Homo sapiens: one gene and its partners. The protein of the gene in region 3 purifies or fractionates together with the protein of the main gene of each other region. This does not show direct contact. Each region holds a gene or a part of one and is shown on either strand. Other genes may lie near its edges. The genes, in order: MANEAL, PACC1, ASIC4, GLB1L2, POMT2, ALG12 and ODR4.

Evidence for each region.
Region 1: the proteins of ASIC4 (region 3) and MANEAL purify together in Homo sapiens (affinity purification with mass spectrometry; 2 studies listed by BioGRID and IntAct, with this or other methods). This does not show direct contact.
Region 2: the proteins of ASIC4 (region 3) and PACC1 purify together in Homo sapiens (affinity purification with mass spectrometry; 2 studies listed by BioGRID and IntAct, with this or other methods). This does not show direct contact.
Region 4: the proteins of ASIC4 (region 3) and GLB1L2 purify together in Homo sapiens (affinity purification with mass spectrometry; 2 studies listed by BioGRID and IntAct, with this or other methods). This does not show direct contact.
Region 5: the proteins of ASIC4 (region 3) and POMT2 purify together in Homo sapiens (affinity purification with mass spectrometry; 2 studies listed by BioGRID and IntAct, with this or other methods). This does not show direct contact.
Region 6: the proteins of ASIC4 (region 3) and ALG12 purify together in Homo sapiens (affinity purification with mass spectrometry; 2 studies listed by BioGRID and IntAct, with this or other methods). This does not show direct contact.
Region 7: the proteins of ASIC4 (region 3) and ODR4 purify together in Homo sapiens (co-immunoprecipitation; 2 studies listed by BioGRID and IntAct, with this or other methods). This does not show direct contact.

Annotation. Positions count from the first base shown.
Region 1 is NC_000001.11:37,796,433-37,799,498, reverse strand, and holds part of MANEAL (glycoprotein endo-alpha-1,2-mannosidase-like protein), read right to left. Parts: intron 2,756-3,066; coding exon 2,679-2,755; intron 1-2,678.
Region 2 is NC_000001.11:212,404,687-212,408,859, forward strand, and holds part of PACC1 (proton-activated chloride channel), read right to left. Parts: intron 1-4,173. UniProt on the Homo sapiens protein: Chloride channel gated by pH that facilitates the entry of chloride ions into cells upon exposure to extracellular acidic pH. Involved in acidosis-induced cell death by mediating chloride influx and subsequent cell swelling.
Region 3 is NC_000002.12:219,534,768-219,538,940, reverse strand, and holds the end of ASIC4 (acid-sensing ion channel 4), read right to left. Parts: exon of another isoform or gene 3,771-4,173; coding exon 3,617-3,770; intron 1,876-3,616; coding exon 1,784-1,875; intron 1,700-1,783; coding exon 1,620-1,699; intron 1,310-1,619; coding exon 1,205-1,309; intron 1,009-1,204; coding exon 895-1,008; 3' UTR 169-894; downstream 1-168. UniProt on the Homo sapiens protein: Does not exhibit measurable stand-alone pH-gated sodium channel activity but may form pH-gated heterotrimeric sodium channels. Its activity could also depend on alternative gating mechanisms.
Region 4 is NC_000011.10:134,366,340-134,370,512, reverse strand, and holds part of GLB1L2 (beta-galactosidase-1-like protein 2 isoform b precursor), read right to left. Parts: intron 3,257-4,173; coding exon 3,172-3,256; intron 1,870-3,171; coding exon 1,732-1,869; intron 709-1,731; coding exon 628-708; intron 221-627; coding exon 114-220; intron 1-113.
Region 5 is NC_000014.9:77,310,374-77,314,546, forward strand, and holds part of POMT2 (protein O-mannosyl-transferase 2), read right to left. Parts: intron 1,661-4,173; coding exon 1,576-1,660; intron 1-1,575. UniProt on the Homo sapiens protein: Transfers mannosyl residues to the hydroxyl group of serine or threonine residues. Coexpression of both POMT1 and POMT2 is necessary for enzyme activity, expression of either POMT1 or POMT2 alone is insufficient.
Region 6 is NC_000022.11:49,904,455-49,908,627, forward strand, and holds part of ALG12 (dol-P-Man:Man(7)GlcNAc(2)-PP-Dol alpha-1,6-mannosyltransferase), read right to left. Parts: intron 3,491-4,173; coding exon 3,267-3,490; intron 53-3,266; coding exon 1-52. UniProt on the Homo sapiens protein: Mannosyltransferase that operates in the biosynthetic pathway of dolichol-linked oligosaccharides, the glycan precursors employed in protein asparagine (N)-glycosylation.
Region 7 is NC_000001.11:186,389,024-186,393,196, reverse strand, and holds part of ODR4 (protein odr-4 homolog), read right to left. Parts: intron 3,610-4,173; coding exon 3,573-3,609; intron 2,487-3,572; coding exon 2,346-2,486; intron 1,502-2,345; coding exon 1,406-1,501; intron 1-1,405. UniProt on the Homo sapiens protein: May play a role in the trafficking of a subset of G-protein coupled receptors.

The DNA of each region.
Region 1 (3,066 bases), on a different chromosome or scaffold from region 3:
TGAGATACGGATGCAACACAGCCCAGTTCTGGAGCCAGTCAGTCTCCACAGTTGGAGTCATCATGCCTCTAAGCAAGAACCTGGTTCCCTCCTTCCTCTCTCCAGTTGTCATTCCTAAGCCTCACTTCCCTACCCTTAGCCAAGCCACCACCGTCTTCCATCTGGATTGCAACAACAGCCAGCTAACTGGTCTCCAGGCTCCCATCCTGCCTCCATATAATCCATTCATTATTCCCACCTACTTGATCTGGCCCTGCCTACTCCATTCCTGCTCTTTTCCCAGCTATTACTCCCCATCTGGCCTTTCTATCCGGCTCTCATGTGTCATGCAAGCTTGTTCCATCTTATGGGACTTGCATCTGCCAGCCCTCTGCTTGGAATTTTCTCCCTGCCTCCGGATCTTTGCAGAGCTGACCCTTTTTCTTTTCTTTTTTCTTCTTATTATTACTACTTTTTTCTGAGATAGGGTCTTGCTCTGTTGCTCAGAGCTGGAGTGCGGTGGGCGATCTCAGCTCACTGCAACCTCTACCTCCTGGGGTTCAAGTGATTCACCTGCCTCAGCCTCTCAAGTAGCTGGAATTACAGGCACCCGCTACCATACCTGCCTAATTTTTGTATTTTTAGTAGAGATGGGGTTTCACCATGTTGGCCAGGCTGGTCTTGAACTCCTGACCTCAGTCAATCCACCCACCTCAGCCTCTCAAAGTGCTGGGATTACAGGTGTGAGCCACTGGGCCTGGGCTTTTTTTTCTTTTTTCTTTTTTTTATTCTTAAGTCTCACTGTATCGCCCAGGCTGGAGTACAGTGGTGCCATCGTAACTCACTGCAACCTCAAACTCCTGGGCTCAAGTGATCCACTCACCTCAGCCCCCCAAATAGCTGGGACAATAGGCATGCATCACCATGCCCAGCTAATGTTTAAAAAAAAATTTGTAGAGATAGAGTCTCCCCATGTTGCCCAAGCTGGTCTCAAACTCCTGGCCTCAAGTGATCCTCCCACCTCAGCCTCCCAAAGTGCTGGGATTACAGGTGTGAGCCACCACACCCAGCCCTGACTGCTCATTCAGGTGTTAGCTCACCTGTTGTCTCCTCAGACTCACCTGACCTGACTATCCATTCTTAAGTAGCATCGTGGGCACACTCTAGCACAAAATCCTGTACAGATCACTGTTTGATTTTTCCCATTTAATTACTGTCTGCTCCACAGTACCTGCAACATACACTAGAAAGTAAACATTATGAAATCAGAAATTTCGCTAGTCCTACCCATTACTGTACAACTGGGCTTAAGTCAGTGCCTGGACACATGTAGGCACTCAATACTCTCTTTTTTTTTGTTTGTTTTTTTAAGAGACAGAATCTTGCTCTGTTCTCAGCTGGAATGCAGTGGTGTAATTGTGGCTAACTGTAACCTCAAACTCCTGGGCTCAAGTGATCCTCCCACCTCTGCCTTCCAAGTAGCTAGGACTACTACAGGCATGCACTGCTATGCCCAGCTAATTTTTTTTTTCAGTAGAGATGGGGTCTTGCTATGTTGCCCAGGCTGATCTCAAACTCCTGGCCTCAAGCAATCAATCCTCCCACCTCTGCCTCCCAAAGCCCTGGGAGGCCGGGTGCAGTGGTTCACACCTGTAATCCCAACACTTTGGGAGGTCGAAGTGGGCAGAGCATCTGAAGTCAGGAGTTCAAGACCAGCCTGGCCAACATGGTGAAATCCCAGGCTGGAGTACAGTGGTGCCATCATAGTTCACTGTAACCTCAAACTTCTGAGCTCAAGTGATCCACTCACCTTAGCCCCCCAAGTAGCTGGGACCATAGCTGTGCATCACCACGCCCAGCTAAAGATACAAAAATACAAAAGTTAGCTGGGTGTGGTGGTGGGCACCTGTAATCCCAGCTACTCAGGAGGCTGAGGCAGGAGAATCGCTTGAACCCAGGAGGCAGAGGTTGCAGTGAGCCAAGATTGTGCCACTGCACACCAGCCTGGGCAACAGAGTGAGACTCTGTCTCAAAAAAAGAAAAAAAAAAAAAAAAGCACTGGCATTACAGGCATGAGCCATTGCACGCAGCCTCATTCAATATTTATTTATTTATTTTTGAGATGGAATCTCGCTCTGTCACCCAGGCTGGAGTGCAGCGGTGCAATCTCGGCTCACTGCAACCTCCGCCTCCCAGATTCAAGCGATTTTCCTGCCTCAGCCTCCTGAATAGCTGGGATTACAGGTGTGCGCCACCACGCCTGGCTAATTTTTTTATTTTTAGTAGAGACGGGGTTTCACCACGTTAGTCAGGCTGGTCTCGAACTCCTGACCTCAAGTGATCCGCCTGCCTCGACCTCCCAAAGTGCTGGGATTACACCATGCCTGGCCTTCATTCAATACTTTCTGAATGAATAAATGAGGTGCCTACATTGTAGAAGCTACTTTCACATATATTAATTCGTGTGATTCTCACAAGACTCAAAGGTTAAGAGGCTTGCCTCATCACAGATTAGAAGCCACAGGACAGGAATTGAAACCCAGGCTGCCTGACTTTAGGCCCAGTACTCTCTTACTATAAAACAGCTGCTGGGAAACACAGGCATTATGCCCTGTGTCTCTTGACCTGCCCCTCCAAACCTTCTATCCCTACCTCCATTTTGATCCCCACCAAAATCCCGGCCCCCAGAGCAGCCTTACGTGTCAATGATGTACTTGATGTTGTCATGTACAGTGATGTCATCCCGGCCCTTGTAGGGTTGGATGTGGAAGGCCACCTGCCACAAACAGAGGAGTAATGGTCAGGTGAGTGTCTATCTAGGGGCCACAACATATCAGGCTCAGGATCTAACCATGGCCTGGAGGAGAGGCTGAGTTCAGAAGAGGGCCTGGCAGTGGTGGGCACAGTAGAGATAAAGGCAGCTGCTGCCCTTGAAGGCCAAAACAGGGGTGAGCAGTTTGCCCATCTCCCGCAGCAGGGCATGTGGGAATCATTTTGGTGGGCTGTTACAGGGTGGCTAATAGGTTTCAACCTTGTGCCAGCTCCAAGTGGTTGGTGCTAGCTGCCTGAAACAGTGGAATAAGTATG
Region 2 (4,173 bases), on a different chromosome or scaffold from region 3:
CAGCCAGCCTTCCTTCCTTTTTTTTTTTTTTTTCCAAGTAGCTGGGATTACAGGCGTGCATCATTCCTGGCTAATTTTTGTATTTGTATTTTTATTTTTTGAGATGGAATCTTGCTCTATCACCCAGTCTGGAGTGCAGTGGCACAATCTCGGCTCATTGCAACCTCCGCCTCCCGGCTTCAAGTGATTCTCCTGCTTCAGCCTCCTGAGTAGCTGGGATTACAGGCATCTGCCACCATGCCCCGGCTAGTTTTTTTGGTATTTTTAGTAGAGATGGGGTTTCACCACGCTGGCCAGGCTGGTCTCGAACTCCTGACCTCAGATGATCTGCTCGCTTTGGCCTCCCAAAGTGCTGGGATGAGCCACAGTGTGAGCCCCTTCAGGTGTGAGCCACCACGCCAGGCCCCTTCATTAATTTTGAAGCACCTGACTCTACCATTTCTTTGGCCCTCATTCATTCATTCCAGTTAGCTCAGTTGCTCCTAGATGAGAGGCTCTCTTGCTCTAAATCTCCACTGCTCTCCCCCAGAGGACAAATAGGTACTGAGTACCTACAGTACTCATACTTCTATGGAGTCATACTTCCATACTACACTCCACACTAGGCACTGGAGTTACAGTAAAGGAGGAGAAGACAAAATCTGTGTGCCTCACAGAACTTGTAGGGCAGTGCCAAGGGATGGATAACAATTAACTGAATAATTAAACTCAATAAATGTGACCTATCAACTGTGTTAACTGTTACAAAGGAAAGCATATCACAGGGAGAAAGGGACCTCATCAGGGAAGTCAAGGAAGGCTCAGAAGGAGGGACAAGTTCTTCCTTGGGTAACCGGCCTTCTGTCTCTATATGCCTGAGTTCCTGGAGGAACTTACTCACCCTCTTTGTGGTGTCAGCACTTGGCATAACAAGTGAAGCAGTCCTTAATTGATCTGCTACAGGGAGGGGAGAATTTGGAGCAGGAAAGCTCTCATCTAGGAACAACTGAGCCAGAGTCAGAACACCTTGCGAGACAGCTCTGGGTATGGATTTGAGCCCTGCCACTCATGAGCTCTGAGCATATTCCTTAACGTCTGTGCCTTGGGTTCCTCATCTATAAACTAGGACTAACCGTTCACCTCACAGAGTGGCTGTGAAGATTACAGGATAAAGTGTATATAAAAAGCCCTATAGGCTCAGAGCAATGGCTTGCACCTGTGATTCCAGCACTTTGGGAGGTCAAGGCAGGAGGATCACTGGAGCCCAGGAGTTTGAGACCAGCCTGGGCAACACTGCATGACCTTGTCTCTAAAAATAATTTAAAAATTAGCCAGGTATGGTGGCGCATGTCTGTAGTCTCAACTACTCGGGAGGCTGAAATGAGCCATGATCACACCACTGTACTGTAGCCCAGTCCACAAAGCAAGGTCCCACCCCACAAAAAAAAAAAAAAAAAAAAAAAAAGCCCTAAAGCCCTACACAGGCCTAGTACATGAAAGCACCCCCAAAATGGCAACCACTATCACCATTACCATTATTTTTATTATTATTATTAGAAGACTCAAAGGGGCCAAGCATGGTGGCTCACGCCTGTAATCCCAGCACTTTGGGAAGCTGAGGCAGGTGGATCACTTGAGGTTAGGAGTTCAAGACCAGCCTGGCCAACATGGCAAAACCTCGTCTCTACTAAAAATACAAAAATTAGCCAGGAATGATTGCAAGTGCCTATAATCCAGCTACTCAAGAGGCTGAGGCATGAGGACTGCTTGAACTCAGGAGGTGGTGGTTGCAGTGAGCCAAGATCGTGCCACTGCACTGCAGCCTAGTTGACACAGGGAGACTGTCTCAAAAAAAAAAGAAGAGTCAGAGGCAAGAAATGAGCTCTGAGAGTTGTGTATCAGTCCATCAAATTTGAGCCAACTCACTACTGACCCAGCCAAATGGACTCCTGAGATCTGAATCTTCTGTGATTTAGAAAGGAGATGAGCCCAGCTCATCTGGTTCCCCCAAAGCAACTGGGAAGGCTACCCCAAAGCAAGTGGGAATGCTCTTGCCAGTTGATGGAACTACCCAAAATTTGCTCTGCCTGAGGCCTGGCTTCCTATTCTGATTGACCCCAGGCTTTGCAGCCCCAGGAATCTGAGGCAAAAGAGAGGCTGCTAAGGTCCAAGGACATTAGGGCCACCTCCTGATTTACCTGGGCACTTCTCTATGAAAGGAAACACAAAGACAAGCCTCATCTTTCCAAGTCTGGCCTCCCTCCTCTTCTTTCTCCTGCCTCCATCTATGCACTTCTGGTTGGGGGCAAGAGGGTAGTGCAAGGTGTGGTAGGCAGAATAAAGGCTCCCAAAGATGTCCAAGTGTTAATCCTTAGAACCTGTGAATATGTCAAGTTGCATGGAAAAGGGGAATTAGGGCAGCAAATGGGACTAAGGTTGCTAATCAGCTGACTTTAAAGCAGGGAGATTATCCTGGGTTACCTGGGTGGGCCCGATGTGATCACAAAGGCCCTTTAAACACAGAAAAGGGAGGCAGGAGAGTCAGCATCAGAGTGATGTCATGTGAGAAAGACTCGACGAGCCACTGCTGGTTTTGAAGCTGCAGGAAGGGGCCACAAGCCAAGGAATGCAGGAGGCCTCCAGAAGCTAGAAAAGGCAAAGACCAAGTTCTCTCCTCAAGCCCCTAGAAAGGAATTCAGGCCTGCTGACAGCTTAATTTTAGCCCAGTGAGATCCATTTTGGACTCCTGACCTCCAGAACTATAAGATAATAAATTTGTGTTTTTTTAGGCCACTAAGTTTTTGGTAATTTGTTATAGAAACAATAGAAAACTAATATACAGGTCTTTCAAGTTGTTCTCCCGGGAGCCTTAGGGCTTTAGAGGCAATGCCTCATGTCAGAGGGAGGATTAGCCGTGCTACTATCTTTTACATATTGGGCTTTAATAAAAGAATGCTTATTGTTTTGTGTGAGTGTTTTTGGTTTTTGTCTGTTTGGTAGAGGCAGGATCTCATTTTATTGCTAAGGCTGGTCTCAAACTCCTGGCCTCAAGAGATCCTCCCATCTTGGCCTCCCAAAGTGTTGGGATTACCACCACTTAAAATAGTTTTTATAAACCACTGATGTAGGCCAGGTGCGGTGGCCCACGCCTGTAATCCCAGCACTTTGGGAGGCTGAAGTGGGCGGATCACCTGAGGTCATGGGTTTGAGACCAGCCTGGCCAACATGGTGAAACCCCATCTCTACTAAAAATAAAAAAGTAGCTGGGTGTGGTGGCACACGCCTATAGTCCCAGCTACTTGGGAGGCTGAGGCAGGAGAATCACTTGAACCTGGGAGGCAGAGGTTGCAATGAGCCGAGACTGTGCCACTGCACTCCAGCCTGGGTGACAGAGTGAGACTCCATCTCAAAAAAAAAAAAAAAAAGAAAACACCACTGGTGTAGTAGAGAGAGTTTAGGGTTGGGCAGAGTTTGACTCAGTCTGTGTTTACCAGCTATATGACCTCCCCATGCTTTACTCAACCTCCCTGAGGTTGGGGGCCTCATCTGTAAAAGGGGGATAACCACTTCACAGGGTTGATGTGAGAATTAAATGGGGCAAATGGGGTACGACAGATCCTGGCACAGGAGAAGCAGTCAGGAAATGTTAGCTGCCCTTCCAGCCTCCTTCCTTCCAGGCAGTCTTTTTTTACTTTATTTTATTTTTTTTTTTGAGGCAGAGTCTCACTCTTGTCACCCAGGCTAGAGTGCAGTGGCATGATCTCGTCTCACTGTAACCTCCGCCTCCTGGGTTCAAGCGATTCTCCTGCCTCAGCCTCCCAAGTAGCTGAGATTACAGGCATGTGCCACCACACCTGGCTAATTTTTGTATTTTTTAGTAGAGACAGGGTTTCACCATGTTGGCCAGGCTGGTCTTGAACTCCTGACCTCAGGTGATCCACCTGCCTCAGCCTCCCAAAGTGCTGGCATTACAGGCATGAGCCACCGTGCCCGGTCCCTTCCATGCAGTCTTCTGTAAGGAGCAGGCAGAACCACATTAGTTCCTGTCTTGTTCCCCTCTCCCACAAACAGATGGGATCCATCCAAGAAGTTGAAGTCAGGCTGGGGCTTCATTCATTCACTCAACAAATCTTTATGGCGTGGTCAAGGCTAGGCTGGTGAGCAAAACAGACTGGTCTCTGCCCTCAGGGAGTT
Region 3 (4,173 bases):
GGTTTTGAAAAGGTAGGCAGGCGTGGGGGAGGGAGGACTGGCTGAGCACCACAGGCTCCCCTGCCCCTGCTGGGGCCTGCCTTTCCTTTCACCCGGGACCAAGTCATGCATGTGCCCAGCCTCACCCCGGCCCCCAGTGCGTGCTTGGTCACACATACACACAGAGAATTCTTTATGCCTCTTTATTCCCAATCTCGTCAGCACTTTATAAAATCAGACTGGAGGGAGAGAGGACTGAGAAGGCTCCCTTCCCACCCTCCAAGCTCAGCCGAAGTCTGGAAGGTCTCCTGCCCCCTCCCTATAGAAGGGACTCTAGGGGTGGGGCTGGTGCAGGGGGAACTGGGAGCTGGGCCAGGCCTGCTGGGCCATCCTCTCCCCCTGCCAAGAGGGGAGCTGGGCCTGGAGAGGGGCAGGAAGTAGGACCAGCCCAGCACTCCTGAGTCCTGGGGCTCTCCCTATCCTGCTGACATTGGGGCTGGGACCCTGGCTGTCCCTAAATCACCCACCCCTGTAGCCCTACCCACCTTCTACATCTGTATCCCCTCCCCCCACCCGGCTTTCCCTAAATATTTACAAATGTACAGAGGGCTCCCCCTCCCCGGCTGGGATGGGCTCTATCCTCCCCCTCCCTCTCCTTCCTTCCCTTCCTCTCCGTGAGGGCCCATGGCCTGGTCTCCAGCCCTCCCGGGGCACCAGCCTGGGGATAAGGGGTGTGGACAAGAAGGACCTTTGTGCAAAGCAGCTGACATCAGGGCAGGGGAGGATGAGAGCAGGAACTGAGTCCTGGCCCTCCCAGTGAGCACCGCCCCCAGGCCTCTCCCAGGAGCAGGAGAATGTGCTGGGGATCCCAGGAGGGGTCCCAGACTCCTGGGTCCTTTCAGTCACAGCACCGTCCTAGCAAGCAAAATCTTCAAAGAGACCTCCTGGGGGACCGTGGGGGTGGTGGTGATTGGGGAGCAGACTGCTGACCCCCCCACCCTCCACTCGGCCCCGGCTCGGGCAGGGACTCTGCAGGAGAAAGAAAAGAGAGAGTGGGACCGGGAGAGCTCAAGTGGTGCCCCCAGGGCTCACACCGCCAGCCTTTCCTTGTCACCTCGGGCAGAGGCTCCAGGGCCCCCTCCACAGGCTGGTTCAGAAACAATGGATGTATTCAGTCCTGGGGAGGTGTGGCTGCATGCTGCAGGCATTTAGAGCTTGTCCTCACCTGTTCCTTCAGCTCCTGAAGCCCCAAAGTGGAGATGCCCCCAGTGGAGGTCCGCAGGGGGGTCTTGGGACGCCTCCATACCCGCTTCAGTCGATCCCAGGACACCTTGGGGTTCAGGGTCGGGGACAGCAGTGGGCTCAGGAAATTTGGTTGAGGAGAAGCGTGAGCCTTACCATGCCCAGCTGCCCACAGGACTTACTGCCACAGCAAACTCCCAGTAGGACACCCTCCTCCTCCTCACCCATCCCCTTCTCCTGACTCTGAGCCCTCAGGCCTGCCAGCCAGTCAGGGGACCCTGGCAGAGAACCCTGAACCTGACTTTCCAGCCAGGCCAGCTCCACCAGGCACCCCGCACTGCCCCCTTCTGCTTTGCCCACGGCCCCCACTCCCACCCTGCCTTCTCCAGGGCCCTTGCCTCATAGATGTAGTCGAGGATCTCCAGCAACGTGAGGATGCTGGCCCCAATGAACAGGCCCATCTGTCCCCCGAGGTCTCCTGGGAAGCAGGAGAGCAGTGTCAGAGGGAGCGGCCGGGCCGATCCACCCCCACACAAGCTGGGGGCAGGGACACCAGTCTCACCCAGCAGGGCTGACAGGCCATAGGCTGCTCGCTGCTCCATGGCTTCAGAGGTCAGGGCCTCAAAGAAGACATCTAGGACCAGGAAGTTCTCCCTGTGGAGACAGGAAGCAGGGTATCCGTGTGGGCCTCTCTTCCTGAGAAGGCTGGCAGGGGCATCCTGGATCCAGCAGATCCTGATCAGAGATCACTACATGGGGAAGTCAGTGACTACCCCCCGGACTCCCCAAGGCTGTGAGGGGAGGCAGTCCCGGATGTGTGTTAGCTTCATCTTTTGAGGGGTAGCAAAGGGCCTGGGAGAGCAAAACACAACTCCTGGACCTGAAGGAAACACTCCTCCCTCCTCTAAAGCAGCCAGTGGTGTTGCCTTTGCCTCCTCCTTACGCCTCTGCGGACCCTTCAGTGACCCCTGTTGCCCGTCAGTCCACTCCACAATGCCCCTTCTCGGTGTCCTGGGCAGCCGGTGGCCTGTCCCCGGCACCTTCCTCCCCAGCCGCCGTCTTTTCTGCTTCCTCCACACAGCTGCCTATGGCTCAGGCTCCCCGCCACACCACCCCACCGCCCCACGTCCTGTCACTGGACGCCTCCCCATTGCCTCCTCTCTCAGACCCCAAACCCAGGGCCCTCAGAGGCCGGCTCACGCCTCCCCAGCTTCACTCCCCGACTGGGGCCTGAGAATCAGTCCTACATGATCAAACGTGGGCTCATTGACAAATTGTGGCATGAGTTTTGTGTCATAATCATCTGTCCCCACAGAACCCAGCACTGAGCCTGGCACCCAGACCACGCTCCACAAGTGTAGACTGGCTGGAGGGGACCAGACCCAAGCCTCAGGGCGGTCCCTCCTGCCTCCCCCTGCAGGGTACTGTGTTCCTCTCCTGTCTCATCCTGTCCCTCTCCCTCCGTGCAGGGAAGAAAGATGCATAAGCAAAGCACTCTGAAATGTGGCATATGTGTAATGACAGAGATCTGTACGGGTGCTGGGAACTCAGATGAAAGGTGTTTGGACCTGGAAGCACTTCCCTGGAGGTGGAGACACTGAACGTGACTTGAGCAATGAGTGGGGCTACTTAGAAGAGAAGGGCTGTGGCCAGGCAAGGTGGCTCACACCTGTAATCCCAGCACTTTGGGAGACCAAGGACGGCAGATCACTTGAGGTCAGGAGTTTAAGACCAGCCTGGCCAACATGGTGAAACCCCATCTCTACTAAAAAGACAAAAATTAGCTGGGTATGGCTGTGGGTGCCTATAATCCCAGCTATTTGGGAGGCTGAGGGAGAAGAATCGCTTGAACCTGGGAGGTCGAGGTTGCAGTGAGCCAAGATTGTGCCACTGCACTCCAGCCTGGGCGACAGAGCAAGACTCTGTCTCAAAAAAAAAAAAAAAAAAGAAGGAGAAGAATAGAGCTATGAAGGGCATTCCCGGTAGAAGACTCATCATAGAGATGCGGCCCACTCCCTGCCTCCACCATGCCCAGCGCCTGTTGAGGGCAGCCTCCACCACACACACACACGCACACAGACCCACACAGACATAGACACATTCTCTCACACACATACCCATTCACAGATACATACACTCATAAGTGTGCATGCACACACACATCACACACTCACACACCCACAAGACACACATACATGCCCCCCACACAGACACACACACACATGCATGTACACACCCACATACACCCCACACACATACACACCCACACCCACATACACACAAACACATACACACATACACTCACACACACGTACACACAGAGTCACACAGCCACCCCCCACACACACGTACACACAGAGTCACACAGCCACCCCCCACACACACACACACATACCGTATGTAGGTCTCGTTGCGGTTGTACTTCCTCGCCAGGTACCGGGCTGAGCCCCTGTTGGGGATCCTGACCATGGAGATCTCTTTCCCATAGCGTGTCAGGTTGCAGGGGGTGGGGCAGAAGCACGGGCCCTCAGGGCCCCCACCCAGGGAGTCTGCAACACAGAGGTAGCAGCTACAGTGGGAGTTGGAGAAGGGTGGTCCAGTGGCCCACCAGCTGCAGAGAGGAGGCCCAGGGGCCGTCCTGAGGCAGGCACACCCACACTGAGGGCCTTTACTGGCCAGCCCCAGTGCTTCCTAGAGGGGACTGGCTGCAGGTCCCCGCCTGAACCAGCTTCAGACTGCTCCAGAGAGCAGATATAAGCAGAACCCCCCAGCACCCTCCCAACCCCCTGGGACTGGGGGGGGGTCCTCGTGGCCCAGAGGGAGAACACAGCCCATCCACCAGAGCTAATCAACTATGTGAGGCCTCAGACACACAAGGAGGTGTGGAGAGGATGCTGGGATGCATGCATGGATGGATGGATGGATGGATGGATGGATGGATGGATGGATGGA
Region 4 (4,173 bases), on a different chromosome or scaffold from region 3:
TGCTGCCCCGACGACTCTCACCTCCCGCCGACGACTGCCCCCAGCACTCACCTCCCTGCCAACGACTGCCCCCGGCACTCACTCACCTCCCGATGACTGCCCACAGCACTCACCTCCCCCAGGTACTTGAGGGCGTCCCACAGAGACAGGTACAAGACTGGCGTTAAGGGCTCATACGGCATCTTGGGAAGAAGGTCAGGTGGGGGAGGGAGAGGGATGCCTGCAACACAGAAAACAGGGTCACCCCCAACGGACCCAAATGTCACTGCCTGCTCGTCCTCCCCACCCGGCTCCCATCCACAGACCCGATGTGCTCCTGCGTCCCAGCACCAAGAGGAACAACAGGCTAGCTCTCAGCACCTGCTGAGGCCAGGGAGGAAGGCCAGGCCTGGGGGAAAGCCAGGGCGTTCTCCCGTCCTCCACAGGAGATAAGGAGCGTTAACACCTGTAACAGGTGAAGCCGGCAAGATGGAAACAGCCTCACACACCTCCCTGTCCTTGTCTAGGATATTCTTGCACGCAGATCAACTGGGGTCGAGGTGGGACAGTAAGGAAGTAACTCTTTAGGGGTCTGAGAGCAGAAGCGAGGGCCTGAGTTGGAACTTGAGTCTGCTGTCTGCTGGGTACCTGAGATGGAGCCGAAGAAGTCTCGAAGCTTCATGTACTTGGCCGTGTAATCGCCGGCTTCTGTCAGCACAGCATCATAGTCTGCAAGACACCGGGCCCTGTCATGGTCATTCCTGTCCCCAGCACAGCACATGTAGCACGAAGAACAGGGAGAAGCTTGGAAGGGCCACAGGTCTTCATCTCAGCCATTGGGGAGGCAAGACACTTTTGAGCCATTCAGTCAAAATACTGTAAACATGAAAGACCAGGCAACTACAACAAGCGTCCATAAGGCCAGGTGCAGCGGCTCACACCTGCAATCCCAGCACTTTGGGAGGCCAAGGCAGGAGGATCGCTTGTGCAGTGGCTCACACCTGTAATCCCAGCACTTTGGGAGGCCAAGGCAAGAGGATCGCTTGTGCAGCAGCTCGCACCTGTAATCCCAGCACTTTGGGAGGCCAAGGCAGGAGGATCGCTCGAGGCCAGGAGTTCCAGACCAGCCTGGGCAACATAGCGAGACCCCCACCTCTACAAAAAATTTTAAAAATTAGCCAGAGGTGGGGGTGCACACCTGTAGTCCCAGCTACTCAGGAGGCCGAAGCAGGAGGATCACTTGAGCCCAGGTATTTGAGGCTGCAGTGAGCTATGATCACACTACTACACTCCAGCCTGGGTGTCAGAGTGATAACTCTCTCACAAATTCAAAAAAACACAAACTGTCCATGATCACAGCATGGCCCTAAATTTCTAGCTGCAGGTGTAATTTCTACTTTCTGGGACTCTCAACCTAAAGGAGGCAGGATCACACCTCCTCAAGGGCCTGGGCAGGGAGGGGAGGCCACCGTCCCTCCCTGTCCCCCTAGGGCGGTCTCCTTCCACTTCCTCAGGCCAACCTTTGCCAAAGAGGCCTCTCTGTAGAGTGACCAGCTCACAGGCACACCACCTCCCTTGAGGCTTCCCTCCTCTGGGAGTGTAACATGACTGTCCAGGCAAGTACCTTCTCCAGGTACTCTATTGCCAAAGACACGAAGGTGCCAGAAGTTGACCCTGAGGGCCTCTCCATAGCAAGTCCCAGCCATGCCCATGCAGGGCAGACCAGGGAGAGCAGTGCTGATGAATACTTGCCATAGCTGGTGACATCTGACTTGTAGTCATGGAAGTGCATGGCTCCATTCATGAAGCCAAAGTTGGTGCCTCCGTGGAACATGTAGAGGTTGATGGAGGAGCCGGCGTCCACAATGGCAGACACGGTTTTCAAAACCTCTGCCGGAGGAGGGAGAAAGGGGATGTGCAGAGTGAGTTAAAGTCTGAGATGAGCCGGGGTCCCTTCACTACTCTCCTCTTTCCCAGTCCCACCTCAAAACCTCAAGGCCAACTTTGTCACTCTGTCCTTCTAGCTCTCATAAAACCCCAATCACAGAAGATTAGGGGTGGAGGAGGAAGTGTGGGCCAGAATCATGGCCCCAGAGCTCGAGCCTCCAGTTGTCTGTCAATCCTGGTCAAGTCTCTGAGCTCCATGTGGACCACCTGCAGCCCAGGTCGGCCAGGGCCTTCCAGCCAGCACAGTCTCCATGTGAGTCTGCCTGACCAGGTGTATCAAGTGCACAAAGATGGGATGCATCCTTAGAGAGAAAACTCTGACACCTCCTATTCTACCTTTGTTAGGAAATGAACCATGACATAACAAGATCATAGCAAAGGAGAAAAACAAATGGTTAATAAATATATATTTTATCAATATAAATCAAAGAAATGCAGACTAAACAATGATGTACTGAGTAGACAAATATTAAAAGTTATTTTAATACTCGGTGTTGCTGAATCTGTGGGAAATGGGTGCACCCATTCAGCAGCAGCGGCTGAAGCTGCCGTCTTTCCGGGGGCTGAGGGGCGAGCATGCACATCTACACGGTGCCGAGGAGCCCCTGTGCCGCTCATCCCAGGGAAAGCCGGGTGCGCAGAGCGCAGGCTCCGGGATGCTCACCGGGATGCTCGCCGGGATGGCGTGCGCTTAACAGAACCACCAGAAACAACCCGGGAGACTGTGTCCACAAAGTGTGGTTTAGAATGGGGCTCTTCACATTCTTTAAAACAGTCATGTAAATCTGTATTTGGTCATACAGAAAGCTGTCCGTATGTGCATTAACTGGCACAAGCAGGTGACATGCAGCGGAGTGTGATGGCATCTGTCTCTATCTGTGTGTGCGTATAGAGCTGTCGGCAGAGATACAGAGAGAACTGCCTGCGTGGTAAACAGCTAAGTGTTTTCTCTGTGCTCTGGGAATTTTATTTCTTCTCTATACTTTTTCTGTATTTTCTGGATGTTTGCAATAGGCATGCATTACCCTTCTAATTACAAAAACACGAACAAGCAATGTTAAAAGCCCTCCCATTCATCCAAGTGTCAAGACAAATGACTCAGGAATATCCAAAGCCAACTTCTGCACACAGATAATCCCAGCAGCCTTGCACCCCCTATGGCTTACATTAGTTAGCAGGTGACTGAAACTCATCCTCACTTCTTAAGTAGCACACATTCTGGATGTAGTCACCGCAAGCACTCACCAGAAGAATCCAAGATATTGTGAGGGCCTCCCCACGAGTCAAACCACCCCGTCCAGTACTCCATCACCATCTTGGGCTGAGTCCCCTGGACACCACAAAATGAGAGTTAGACAAGCAGGCTGGCCAGACAAAAAAGAGGGAAGCTCTTCATGGAGGGGAGCCCCAGGATCTCTGCCCTCTCTACTCTTCCCTGTCTGCATACCCACTGCCTTAGAGGTCTTTGGAGGTGGGGCATAGGTGAGGGCCAAATTCGCCTGCACACCAGTTCTCCTGCCACATGTGGCCTCCTGCAGGTATAGAGCAGATAAAGCTCCCAAAGTCGATATGGCAAACCCTGATGGTTTTAATGTTGCATACGTGTTAGCAAGAAGACACTGGTCCAGGATCAAGCCAAGCTTTGCCTGTCCTCTTCCAGGGAAGGGGGATGTTTTACCCAGGACAACTCCATATCTGAGAGGGATACTGTGGATGCAGATCCCTCCCCCCCACCCTGGGTACTGGCTCCATTAGCAGAAAAATCAGACGCTGCAGAGTGGGCCCTCTTCAAGGTCCAACTCAGTTTAAACAGCAGTTTGCAGCATTTTCTGAACCAGAAAATCAGGGCCTTACAGCACAGCTATTCATGGTGCAGGTTCTGCACTGACAGTTTGGATTTATACCTTGGCTGGGCCACTCAACAAATCTTAAATCTTCTTTCTGAATACTGACTTTGGCATAGGACGGCCCCAAGGAGGCCAAGATCATTCCTGGGACCATGCTCCACTCTGCCACGTTTGCAGAAGCCCAGAGCACCTGGGGGAGGTGTAAAGACTAACACGCTAGTATTTCAGGCTCTGCATGAGAGAGCCTTCCTCACTTATTCAGTGACAGCTTGTCAAGTATCTCTAGGTCAGTGATAGCCTTATGTTTAGAGGGATACCGCATACACAGCAACAAAATCTGATCCAGGGGGATGGGACAAACTCACGGTCCATTGAGTAGAAGGTACCAGCCATACCCGGG
Region 5 (4,173 bases), on a different chromosome or scaffold from region 3:
TAAGGTTGTTCTGAGGCTTACATGAGATAATGCCTCTAAGGTGACTAGAACAGAATAAATGTTTTTAATTGTTCTTGTTATTGTTGTTATAGTATAAAAGAGATAGGAAGAGGCATAATATGTTCTACACTTTTCTTGGGCTCAGAGCCAATTTTGAAATAGGCTACCTGTTCTACCTCGCTTCCCATCCCTCCACGCTGTAGGGCCCCCTGCTCTCATGCTTCCTTAAGCCCAACCATAGGTGATCTTTGTGATCTTTGATAAAAGATTACACTCCCTGCCTCCTCCTGCCTTCCCTGCTCCTGCCTTTATCCCCCAAGTACTACCTGCTCCAAGATCCCTCCCCACTTAATCACAGGAAAATTCCTGTCCCCTTGGTGCCCAAGATCTAAGTCTCCAGTTAGGAAGAAAGCCTTGAGTGAATTCCAGGGCTAATCCGAGAGCCTTCTCAGAGGTTTTTGTTTTTAAAAGACTAAAATGGGCCAGGTGCGGTGGCTTGCCTGTAATCCCAACACTTTGGGAGGCCAAGGCGGGTGGACCACCTGAGGTTGGGAGTTCAAGACCAGCCTGGCCAACATGGTGAAACCCCGTCTCTACTGAAAATACAAAAATTAGCCAGCGTGGTGGCGGGCGCCTGTAATCCCAGCTACTTGGGAGGCTGAAGCAAGAGAATCACTTAAACTTGGGAAGCAGAAGTTGCAGTGAGCCAAGATTGTACCATTGCAGTCCAGCCTGGGTGGCAAGAGTGAAACTCTGTCTCAAAAACAAACAAACAAAAAAAGAGTAAAGTGAATTCTAATTGGTTGAATTTCTAATGGTAAAACATGTGAGAGAAACAGATCAAACCATGTGTATGCTGGGCATGGGAAGGGAGAAAGAAGTCAGCCCCATATGGATATCAGCCTCGTAAGCTATTTCTGCTTCATGCAATGTATTCCTATTTCTTTTTTCTTTTTTAAAATTCAGACAAATTCACATAACATAACATCCACCATTTTAAAGTGTGCAATGGGTGGTTTTAAGTATATTCACAAGATTGTGCAATCATCACCACTACCTAATTCTGTAACATGTCATCACCCCATAAAGAATCCCCACACCCATTTGCAGTCACTGCCTAATCCTCCCTGCCCTGAGATCCTGGCAACCACTAATCTACTTTGTGTCTCTGCGGATTTGTCAGTTCTAGATATTTCATATAAGTGGAATCACAGGGTATGTAACCTTTTGTGTCTGGCTTCTTCCATTTAGCATGTTTTCCAGGTTCATCCATGTTGTAGCATGTATCAGAACCTCATCCCTTTTTATGACCAAATATTATTCCACCATATGGCTGTGCCACACTTTGTTCATCCCTCCCTCAGCTGATGGGCCCTCTTTCCATTTCTGAGCCCAGAGGACCCTTAAAAAACACCAGAGATTTTCCATGAAAGTAGCTGGTCTGAAATGTCAGAAAATTCTTTCTACAAGTCCCAAATTCTTTCTAGAAGCCCCAAATCCAAAATCAAGATGTGGCTCCAGCCCTTAGGAACAATCCTCTGGGACCAGAGAGCTGCTATTCACCACACTGCTCACCTTTCCCAGGGGCGGGTGCACATCAAAGAAAAATGTACGGTTGATATAGTAACTTCCCATTTTTCCAAAGTGAGTCTCATCCCAACTAAAGGAAACACAGAAAGAGAAACAAGAATTTTAAAATTATCATAAAATCCAAATGGCCTTCATAAAGCATGGTTAAAATTAAAGGCTATGCATTTCAAACAATTAATGCAAAAGTCTGGATTTAAAAAAAAAATATTTTGACACAAGTGATTTTAGGAAGAAAGACATCAAGCTGGCCACTGGTCTTCATTTAGATAGATGAGAAAGGCGAGCAAATATTCACTAGCCAGTTACCAATTGAGTTAAATATACATATACTTACTCTGTATCTTGAGTTTCTATTTATTTTAAAAGGACAAGATGTTTTCTCATAATATGGAAAGGTTTGTAGTAAGAGTTTTCTTCTGGCCGGGTACGGTGGCTCACACCTGTAATCCCAGCACTTTGGGAGGCCGAGGCAGGCGGATCACGAAGTCAGGAGATGGAGACCATCCTGGCTAACATGGTAAAACCCTGTCTCTACTAAAAATACAAAAAATTAGCCAGGCATGGTGGCACGTGCCTGTAATCCCAGCTACTAGGGAGGCTGAGGCGTGAACCCGGGAGGCAGAGCTTGCAGTGAGCCGAGATCGCGCCACTGCACTCCAGCCTAGGCGACAGAGTGAGACTCCGTCTCAAAAAAAAAAAAAGTTTTCTTCCTATCTTCAAGTAGCTAGTGTAAACAAAAATTTAAATTAAAAAAAGTTTCTTCCAAGTCTGCTAACTTCTGAGACAACATTTGCTATTAGAAGGTCCATTACGACGCTGTTGGGCTGCTGGTCAGAGTTGAGTCTATAAACCATGAGTGTCACAGGAGTCTCATTTTGCTCAGCCACCCTGTGACAAGTAAGCTGCTAACTGTGATCTGGCTGATCTTATACTAACTAGTATATAAAAGTTGAAGGCTTTCTTACTAAATTAAGACCACATCTAAAACCTATCCTCATTGCTTAAGTTATTTTGCAAGTAAATAAGTGATTTGAATAAACAGGCTTTCAAACACAATGCAAAGTCCTCTTTTATACAACCACATACACCTTTCTACACCATACATGAGGGCTTTGGGAACGCAGCCAAGTCATCCAGCAGAGCCTGGCCTTTTCTATTTGTAATTTTCTCCCTGTAGCTCAAAAGAAGGGTTACTTTCTAGTAGTCATCAATCCCCAGGTCATGAGCAGTCATTATTGACCTACTACATAAGGGGAAAACATGCTTTACCTAAGAATCTAAGGTTCTTTTTATATCTTACTTGGTGGGTCCAAGATAGGCAAAAGAATAGGTCTATTTCAGCATCTGCTAAACACCTTGACAGGCAGTGAGGACATTGGCATGGTGAGGTCGAAGACAGAAATAACTTCAAAGCAGGGTAATGAAACTGATTTGCAGAAAGAGAGATCCAGTCCCAGCTCCACCACTAATTAATGGCACAACCCGCCAAAATCACTTATTCTCTCTAGTCCTCTTATCTCATCTACAAAATGAAGACAATAATATTATCTGCCCTGCCCACCTCCCAGGGAGGCCTTAGGGCTCAACTCAGATAACACATGTGAAAGAATTCTGTAGATTATAAAGTACCATCCCTGCTGGGCCCTCCTTAAACTGTCCTGACATTTGTGGTTAGTTTTTAAATCTGTTTGGGAACATACTAACAAAAGGATTCCAGTTTTTTTGTTTTGTTTTGTTTTGTTTTGTTTTTGCTTGTTTTTTGAGACAGAGTTTCACTCTTGTTGCCCAGGCTGGAGTACATGGACACAATCTTGGCTCACTGCACTTTTCACCTCCCGGGTTCAAGCGATTCTCCTGCCTCAGCCTTCCAAGTAGCTAGGACTACAGGCGGCCGCCACCACACCTGGCTAATTTTTGTATTTTTAGTAGAGATGGGGTTTCACCATGTTGGCCAGGCTGGTCTCGAAACTCCAAACCTCAGGTGATCCACCTGCCTCAGCCCCCCAAAGTGCTGGGGTTATAGGTGTGAACCACCGCACCCAGCCTGGGCTCCAGATTTTTACTTCAAAAGTTTCCCAAGTAAAACCAGTTGTAACATTCATATTTCCTCCTGGCTTTTATTGCTTGTGTTAGGAGAGACAGTCCTCCGTGGCTCTCTTGTGCTCCTCCAGGCCTTGCAAGGTATGCCAAGAATGCTGTTTGCAGTAAACAACCTTGAGGGAAGTTAGTGTCTCCCTCTGAGACAGAGGGCTGTCTTGTTTATTGCTTGCCATAAAACAGCAGATTCCCTAAGCTTAATATTACTCAGCTGTGATGCAAGCTACTGCATGTGCAAGCATTCATCCAGTCCCTCAGCACCACGTGGGACTTAGGGGCAAAGGAAACTGATGCCAACATGCTGATGCACATCCCACTTGCTGTGCCATGAGAAATAAAGTCCTCTGTCTCTGACCCAAGACTTTGTCTTCTGTCAGCATGCAAAAAACAGTGACAGGCTAACTTATTAGCTAATAAGTAGGCTAAGATAAAATCACAGCCCCTGACAGTGTGGAGACAAGCATAGGATGAGGAGAGACATAGTCT
Region 6 (4,173 bases), on a different chromosome or scaffold from region 3:
CACAAGCAGAGACCCCGCTTTGTACAGCCAAGACTTTTTATAGTTATTCAGCCTGAAAAAAGAATGGTTACACATCATAGGCAGAACGTAATGACAATAAAATTAATCTACCTACAAAACATACTAGGAGCATAACCTGCTGTTCAACTTCACCAAGTCATAACAAAGAGTTCACCACCAAATAAAACAGAGTCAGTAACCCGTAAAAGTGGTTAAGATACTGCCTCAAGAATTGTCTGTGAAATTCTACCCAAGATGCCAATTTAAAATTTAGATGAGATTTTAAAATATATATATATTTTTGAGACAGAGTCTCGCTGTGTCACCCAGGCTGGAGTGCAGTGCCATGATCTCGGCTCACTGCAACCTCCGCCTCCTGGGTTCAAGTGATTCTCCTGCCTCAGCCTCCCAAGTAGCTGGGACTACAGGTGCACGCCACCATGCCCATCTAATTTCTGTATTTTTAGTAGAGACAGGCTTTCACTATGTTGGCCAGGCTAGTCTTGAACTCCTGACCTCGTGATCTGCCCGCCTCAGCCTCCCAAAGTGCTGAGATTACAGGCATGAGCCACTGCGCCCAGCCTAAAAATATATTTTCAAACAATCCCAAGTGACTGTGTAGGTCAGAGTGCCACCCGCGCGGCCAAGCCCACTCCCAGCAGGTCTGAGTGAACTCTCTGGGACAGGGTGCCGCCGGTTCTCTCACAATCGACTATGCCAATCTCAGGATCCTACGGCAGAGTTAGCAGCTGCCACAGACAGTGTGGCCCACGAAGATGAGGCTCTTTATTAGCTGGTCCTTAACGGAAAAGCTTGCCAACCCTGGTCTAAACGCCCTGAACCCCCGATCAAGACTCACTCTCTTCCAAACCCACCAGGCTCCTCGGAGCCCTCTTCTCCACAGGCCCTGCCCTTTGCTATGGTTTGGATCTGCGTCCCCACCAAATCTCATGTCCAACTGTGATCCCCAATGCTGGAGGTGGGGCCTGGTGGGAGGTGACTGGGTCATGGAGGTGGAGCCCTCAGGAATGGATTAGCGCCATCCCCTCCATGCTGTTCTCCTCATACCGAGTGAGTTCTCGAGAGGTCTGCTTGTTTGAAAATGGGTGACACCTCCCCCGTCCCTCTTCGTCCTGCTTTGGCCACATAAAAGCGTGCCCGCTTCCCTCTCGCCTTCCGCCATAATGGAAAGTTTTCCCAGGCCAGCCTGGAAGCTGAGCAGACACCAGTACCACGCTTCCCGTACAGCCTGCGGAACCGCGAGCCAATGAAGCCTCCTCTTTATAAATTATCCAGTCTCAGGTGTTTCTTTACATCAGTGCGAGAGCAGACTAGTGCACCCTTGAACAATCTCTGGTGCGGTTTCTGAGCTCGAGGCCCCACCTAGGATGACCGCAGCCTCCTAAGTGCCTGCCCCAAAGAGCTCAGCACTGCCAGGGCGTTCGTCCTTTGTTCCCGCCCAAACCTGGAGTGGGCAGTCACTGTGGAAAGCTCGCAATCAGAAACCTTCCACCCCCAGGACTGTCTCAAGGCCCTGGGCCCTGACACCGTGGGAAACGGCCTGCTCTTGCTCCCAGGGTGGCCGGGCTGAGGACCTGACTTCGGAGGGGGCCTTGCTCTACCCTGCACCCCCTCATTTGGACTCCCCAAGTTTGTCCTCCTCCGGATAAGGCCGACTGGCACAGCAGGGGCCCTTGCATGGAGCAGCCCCTCACGCCCAGCACACCAGGCCTCAAAGACACAGAGCTGGGTCCAGTTCCCACTGGATCTTCTTCCCTGCTGGAAAAGCCTGTCACCGAATACAATCCATCCGCGCCGCTCTCCCCGTCTTTCCTACCCTCTTTTCCATGACTCTGGCTGGGGTCTGCTCCTCCTCCAGCCCTGAGCCGACCCCTGAGACGAGAGGGAGCCAAAGGCACAGAAAAGCAGAGGCAGAGCTCCCAGGAGCCCCCACTGAGGCGCGGCTACAGCAGCCAGAGGAGCCCCCAACCCAGGCACGGCCACGGCAGCCGGAGGAACCCCCAGCGAGGAACAGTCACGGCAGCCAGAGGAGCTCCCAGGCCCGAGGGCAGTGCGGGGCAGTCGGAGCTGGGGGGCACCATCCCCTCCCCTGTAACAAGTGGCACCGGAAAGCACCTGACCGCTGCCTGAGATCAGGGACCGCATTGTGGGGCTTCCTCTCCAGCCAGAGTGGGCACCTCTCAATGCCCCAGGCCGCGGCCCTCCTGGCCTGTAGCCCTGCCGCCCCTCAATGCCCAGCGTGGCCTGAGTTGGCCTCCTGTTCCCATCAAGGCAGCAAACTCTGAACGGGCACAGAGCTGGCCAGCCTCAGCCCTGGGTTCTTCCGCAGCACCCACAGGGCCAGCAGTGATGGACTCTCCTGGGCCTGAGCCCCGGGTCCTTCCCCAGCACCCACAGGGCCCGGCAGTGATGGACTCTCCTGGCTCCCTGAGGCTTGCAACACTGAGTGGCAGCCGCGCTCAGACCACCCCACCCTCAGCCCAGGCAGTGCCCTCCCCAGGCCCTGCCAGGCCCCCAGCTCCACCTCCATCACCTGCTGCCTGCAGTCCCTCCCCGCAGGAAGCCCCCTGCCCTCCACAGGACCTTGAGCCTGGGCCACGCTGGGCCCTCTGCACCCAGCCATAGGCACCTCCCTCACCATCCCCCTCTTCCAGCCAGATGACCCGCCTTGACAAACGCCCTCAAGCCCGAGGCCCTGTCAGGATGGCCACGAACGCCCTTCCTCTACCTGACCTGTCGCCCTCAGAGCCTCCCAGGCCTGGCTGCCCCTGCCCTCTGCCGCTGCTACCTATGTGAGTGTCACTCTCCCATGACAGAGACTGGGACCGCTGGTGCATCACCATATGTGGACCAGTCACCAAATTAACCCAAGACAGAGACCACCTGAGCAAAGCCCTCTGTCAGCACAATGCCAGGCCGGTCCCATCCCATGCAGCCCTCAGGGAGGAGAGAGGACTGGGGTCACCCTCCTTTGACATAAGCGCCTAGTTCAACACACCCTGTGTTTATCTTAAAAAACAGCCCTGGTGGCTCACACCTGCAATCCCAGCACTTCCAGAGGAGGAGGCAGGAGGATGGCTTAACCCCCTAGGAGTTGAGGGGTGCAGTAAGCCCCACTCCAGCTGGGCGACAGAGCAAGACCCTGTTTCAAAAATTAAACACACACATACATCCCCCCAACAGTAAATCAGTGAACCTGTTTCCAATGAAACTATAAAAATGCATGTCACAAAAAGAGCACTCACAGGTAGGAGCAGCCTCTGGCAGCCGTGATGTTGAGCATGGGGAAGGCATAGATGATGAAGCGTAGCTCCTTGTGTGGCAGGAGGGAGTAGAGTGCCATGAAGCCCAGTGCCAGCACCGTCGGCGCGTGCGTCCTTCTGTCTACCAAGCCCAGGGGGATGAAGAGCAGGCTGCAGCCCAGGCCGCGGGGCAGGGCTGAGTAGAAGTACCACAGCAGCGGGGAGGTCTGCGGGCTGGGTTAAGGAGGCCACGCACCTGTCCACGCATGAGCCCGTGGGCTAGGTGGCAGGGTCAAGGTGGAGAAGACGCTTGAAGACAGTTGTGCTGAGAGATGCAGCCTGGACCACGGCTCGTGTGCACAGACACCACTCAGGCCTCAGGCCCCTCCTAAAAGACAGAGCCCAGGCCACAGCTCGGGTGCACACATACCACTTGGGCGTCGGGCCCCCTCCAGGCAGGACCAAGGCAGCAAGGGCCACAGGACGTTCGGTCTCTGTACCCTTTTCTTCACTGTTAAAAACAGATGGTCGGCCGGGCGCAGTGGCTCATGTCTGTAATCCCAGCACTTCGGGAGGCCAAGGTGGGTAGATCACGAGGTAAAGAGATCGAGACCATCCTGGCCAACATGGTGAAACCCTGTCTCTACTACAAATACAAAAATTAGCTGGGCATGGTGGCATGTGCCTGTAATCCCAGCTACTCAGGAGGCTGAGGCAGGAGAATCACTTGAACCAGGGAGTTGGAGGTTGCAGTGAGCCGAGATCATGCCACTGTACTCCAACCTGGCGACAGAGTGAGACTCTGTCTCAAAAAAAAAAAAAAAAAAAACCAAAAAACAAAAAACAGACGGTCACGGGTGACACACATGTTGGGATTCGTTATGCTGTTCCATCTATGCGTGTATGTTTG
Region 7 (4,173 bases), on a different chromosome or scaffold from region 3:
CCCAGGTATTAAACCTAGTACCCATTATTTATTTTTCCTGATCCTCTCCTTCTCCCTCCTTTTAGTGTGTGTTTTTCCCCTCTATGTGTCCATGTGTTTTCATCATTTGGCTCCCACTTATAAGTCAGAACATACGGTATTTGGTTTTCTGTTCCTCTGTTAGTTTTCTTCTTTTCCTTTTCTTTTATTTTGAAATGGAGTCTTACTCTGTAGCCAAAGGCTGGAGTGCAGTGGCACGATCTCGGCTCAATGCAACCTCCACCTCCCAGGTTCAAGCCATTCTTCTGCCTCAGCACCCCGAGTAGCTTGTGCTTACAGGCACCTGCCACCACACCCGGCTAATTTTTGTTATTTTTAGTAGAGACAGGGTTTCACCATGCTGACCAGGCTGGTCTTGAACTCCTGACCTCAAGTGATCTGCCCACCTTGGCCCCTCAAAGTGCTGGGATTACAGGCATGAGCCACCACGCCTGGCCCCTGCCTCCCAAGTAGCTGCAATTACAGGCACCTGCCACCAATGCCCAGCTAACTTTTGTATTTTTAGTAGACACAGGGTTTCACCATGTTGACCAGGCTGGTCTCAAACTCCTGACCTCAAGTGACCCACCCACCTCGGCCCCCCAAAGTGCTGGGATTACAGACATGAGCCACCATGCCTGGCCCCTGCATTCGTTTTCTAAGGATAAAGGCCTCCAGCTCCATCCATGTTCCTGCAAAGGACATGATCTCGTTCTGTTTTAATGGCTGCACAGTATTCCATGGTGTATATGTACCACATTTTCATTATCTAGTCTGTCATTGATGGGCATTTAGGTTGATTCCATGTCTTTGCTATTGTGAATAGTGCTGCAATGAACATAATGCATGCATGTGTCTTTACAATAAAACAATTTATATTCCTTTGAGGGTATAGCCAGTAATAGGATTGCTGGGTCAAATGGTATCTCTGTTTTTAGGTCTTTGAGGAATCAACACACTGCCTTCCACAATGGTTGAACTTATTTATACTCCCACCAACGGTTTATAAGCATTCCTTTTTCTCTGCAGCCTTGCCAGCATCTGTTATTTTTTGACTTTTTAATAACAGCGATTCTGACTGGTGTGAGATGGTATCTCATTGTGGTTTTCATTTGTGTTTCTCTACCGATAGTAATGCTGAGTTTTTTTTCATACGATTCTTGGCTGCATGTATGTCTTCTTTTGAAAAGTGTCTGTTCATATCCTCTGCCTACTTTTTAATGAGGTTGTTTTTCTAAGAAAAACATTTGCCTTTTACTTTAAATCAGAAATCAGAAATGAGAGGTAGATGAAATCAGTTTTCTTGTAGGCAAGGACTAAAAATAAGTCATGTTTTATTTTTCCTTAAGCACTAACAATTTAATAAGATGATTTTCTCTTAACTTACCTGTCCTTCTAATAGGTCACAATCTTCATCTTTAACTTGTCCATTAATCAAATAAACACCATTTTCTATTTCCTTGGCCCAGCGTGTAAGTCCATTCTTAACAGAAACACAACATGGAAATCTTTCAGATACAATGCCATCTCAATTAAACTTCCTATAATCTACTTTGTTCCACCTAATAAATTGAAATATTAAAATCCCTAAATCTCATTACTGCAGCATTTAAATCTAGTTTCACAAATTAAAAAAAAGTATACCCCCATTCTTGATACCTTATTATATTTAATAATAGTTATTTTCTGATCTTTATCCCAGAATAACATTTATGTCACAGACTCAGGAGGTTATTAAGTACATGATCAGTTAAATAAAATTTAATGCCCACTACCTTAAAAAAAAAAGTGAGAAAAAAGCATCAAATAAGTCTAAAAAATAAAAAAAAAAAGCTCTATTTGACATCTTCAATGGGAAAAATGAAGAAAAATAAGATAAAAATAAAAGAATGGTATAGAAATACAAAAAAGAACTGGAAAAAGGAAGACAAAAAAACCTAAGTACTAAGAGAAAGCTAAAAGTCCAAACAGTATAGCTTCTTACATTAATTACATTTTACATGTTAATTAATGAATACTGTTATATTTAGTTTAATGACAAAGCACATAATAATACTTAATCAGCACATAATAAGTACTAGTATATTTAGTCTAACAACTAAATTATTAGTTATTATTAAACTGAATATACTAGTATTATGACATTGTTCCACTTCTAAAAATTTCTAAAAATTTCTAATTTGGCTGCGGTAATAAGTTACTCACATAACAACATTGTAAGCAGAATGTAATTTTTGAGGATTGTAAAATGAATGACACATGTAAGCAGAATAAAAGCAGATTGTTCACTCAGCAATCACTGAAGAAAATTCATTTTACCCTGGTACCTTTGTATTTTTCTCCAGAGTATAGCTGACAGAAGTAGCAGAAAGTGGGATGTGAATATTAATGTGAACTGTACACTCTAAAGAAAGCCATGAGGATGATAATCCACTTTGATACTTCCAATCTGCTGGTCTTGCTGAACTCTAGCAGTGGAGAAGGGAGAAAAATAACTATGATGTAGTCTAGATAAAATACATGGATCAACAAAACATTATTAAATATACAACCTAAATAACGCATACAAACTCATATCTAACATATATGGCTAAACCCTTGATCAAAAGACTATAGGTTGAACTAAACACAAAATAAAGCATGTGTTAAGTTCAGTACTCTTCAATACATCCTTGGCAATACTTCTCCTCCCAATGGTAGGCAGAAAAAGAATCAGAAATTTCCATGTTTAGAATTCTGAAAGGTCCTTTGATCCTCTAGCTTCAACAGTATCAATACTGAAGATTCTGATCTGAAGCAAATAATCACTGAGCAACTCCTAGGTGGCAGGCATTCTCCTTTCTGTCCCATCCTTGCTAATGACACTGCAAAGTTACTTTTTCACAACCCTTTTAGATGCATTAGCAAAGTGCTAATCTGGGTTTTGCTGAATACACATAGCTTGTTTAATAGGCAGTGCAGCTACCAAAAGTCCTCAGTCACTTTTACTACCAGCCTCTCAAATATAAAACTAAATACACAAACAAGGTAGGAGGAGATTAACAAAGATATTTTAACAATTTTTTAAAAAGTTGGCTGGCCGTGGTGGCTCAAGCCCGTAATCTCAGCACTTTGGGAGGCGAAGACAGGCAGATCACTTGAGCCCAGAAGTTCAAGACAAACATAACTAACATGGTGAAACCCTATCTCTATCAAAAAAAACAAAAAACAAAAAACAAAAATAATTAGCCAGGTGCAGTGGTGCACATCTATAGTCTCAGCTACTCAAGAGGCTGAGGTGGGAGGATCCCTCGAGCCCAAGAGGTGGAGGCTGCAGTGAGCTATGACTGCATCACTGCACTCTAGCTTGGGCAAGAGAGTGAGACCCTGTCACGCACAAAAAAGTTTTCCTTATCTGTAATAAAATTAATCATATTTCAAAATAAAAACTACAGTTGTTTGTAGGCATCAATAGGAAGTGATGGCAATGGAAATTATTAAAACTAAATAAAAGCTGAATTTTGATTGAAAATACTTTGTGACACAGAAAAATCTTTAAAGAGTAAATTTCTTACCTTTGGATCATGGATATCATAAGTTCGACAAAATATTCTTCACTAATTAAGGACAGAAATAACCAAAAAAGGCATTATTGGTAACTAAAAGAATATAAACTATCAAAAAATAAACTAAAAAATGCACGCATCCAAAAGTTCTTACAAAATCATAACACTTTAAAGATATGCGTACATATATGTACATGTGTGCATATATATACATATGTGTATATATAATCATACATACAAACTGCTATCACTATAGTACTTGCGGTGCTTGAAAATCATTTCCTACCTTTTATGAATCCCGCTAATTGCAATAAATAGAATCAAAGCACTCGTGAGATTCTTCTCAAATATACACTCTCCATAAGAAAAAGTACCACTGTTTTATATGAGGTCAAACCTGAGACTATTTATTGGATTAAAGGGCTTGTATATGAAACTTTGCAGTTAAATACTAAAGATTTTTTTTGTTGTTGTTAAAAAAAAAAAAAGCCCTGCTTCTGCAGGAATGGTCACTTTTAAAATTCTGTCTTTGGAAGTCCATGGATCGTGTCACTCCTTTGGTGAGGATGACCCTTGCTTGGGAGGTACTCTTGCCCTGGTAAGAGGCCGT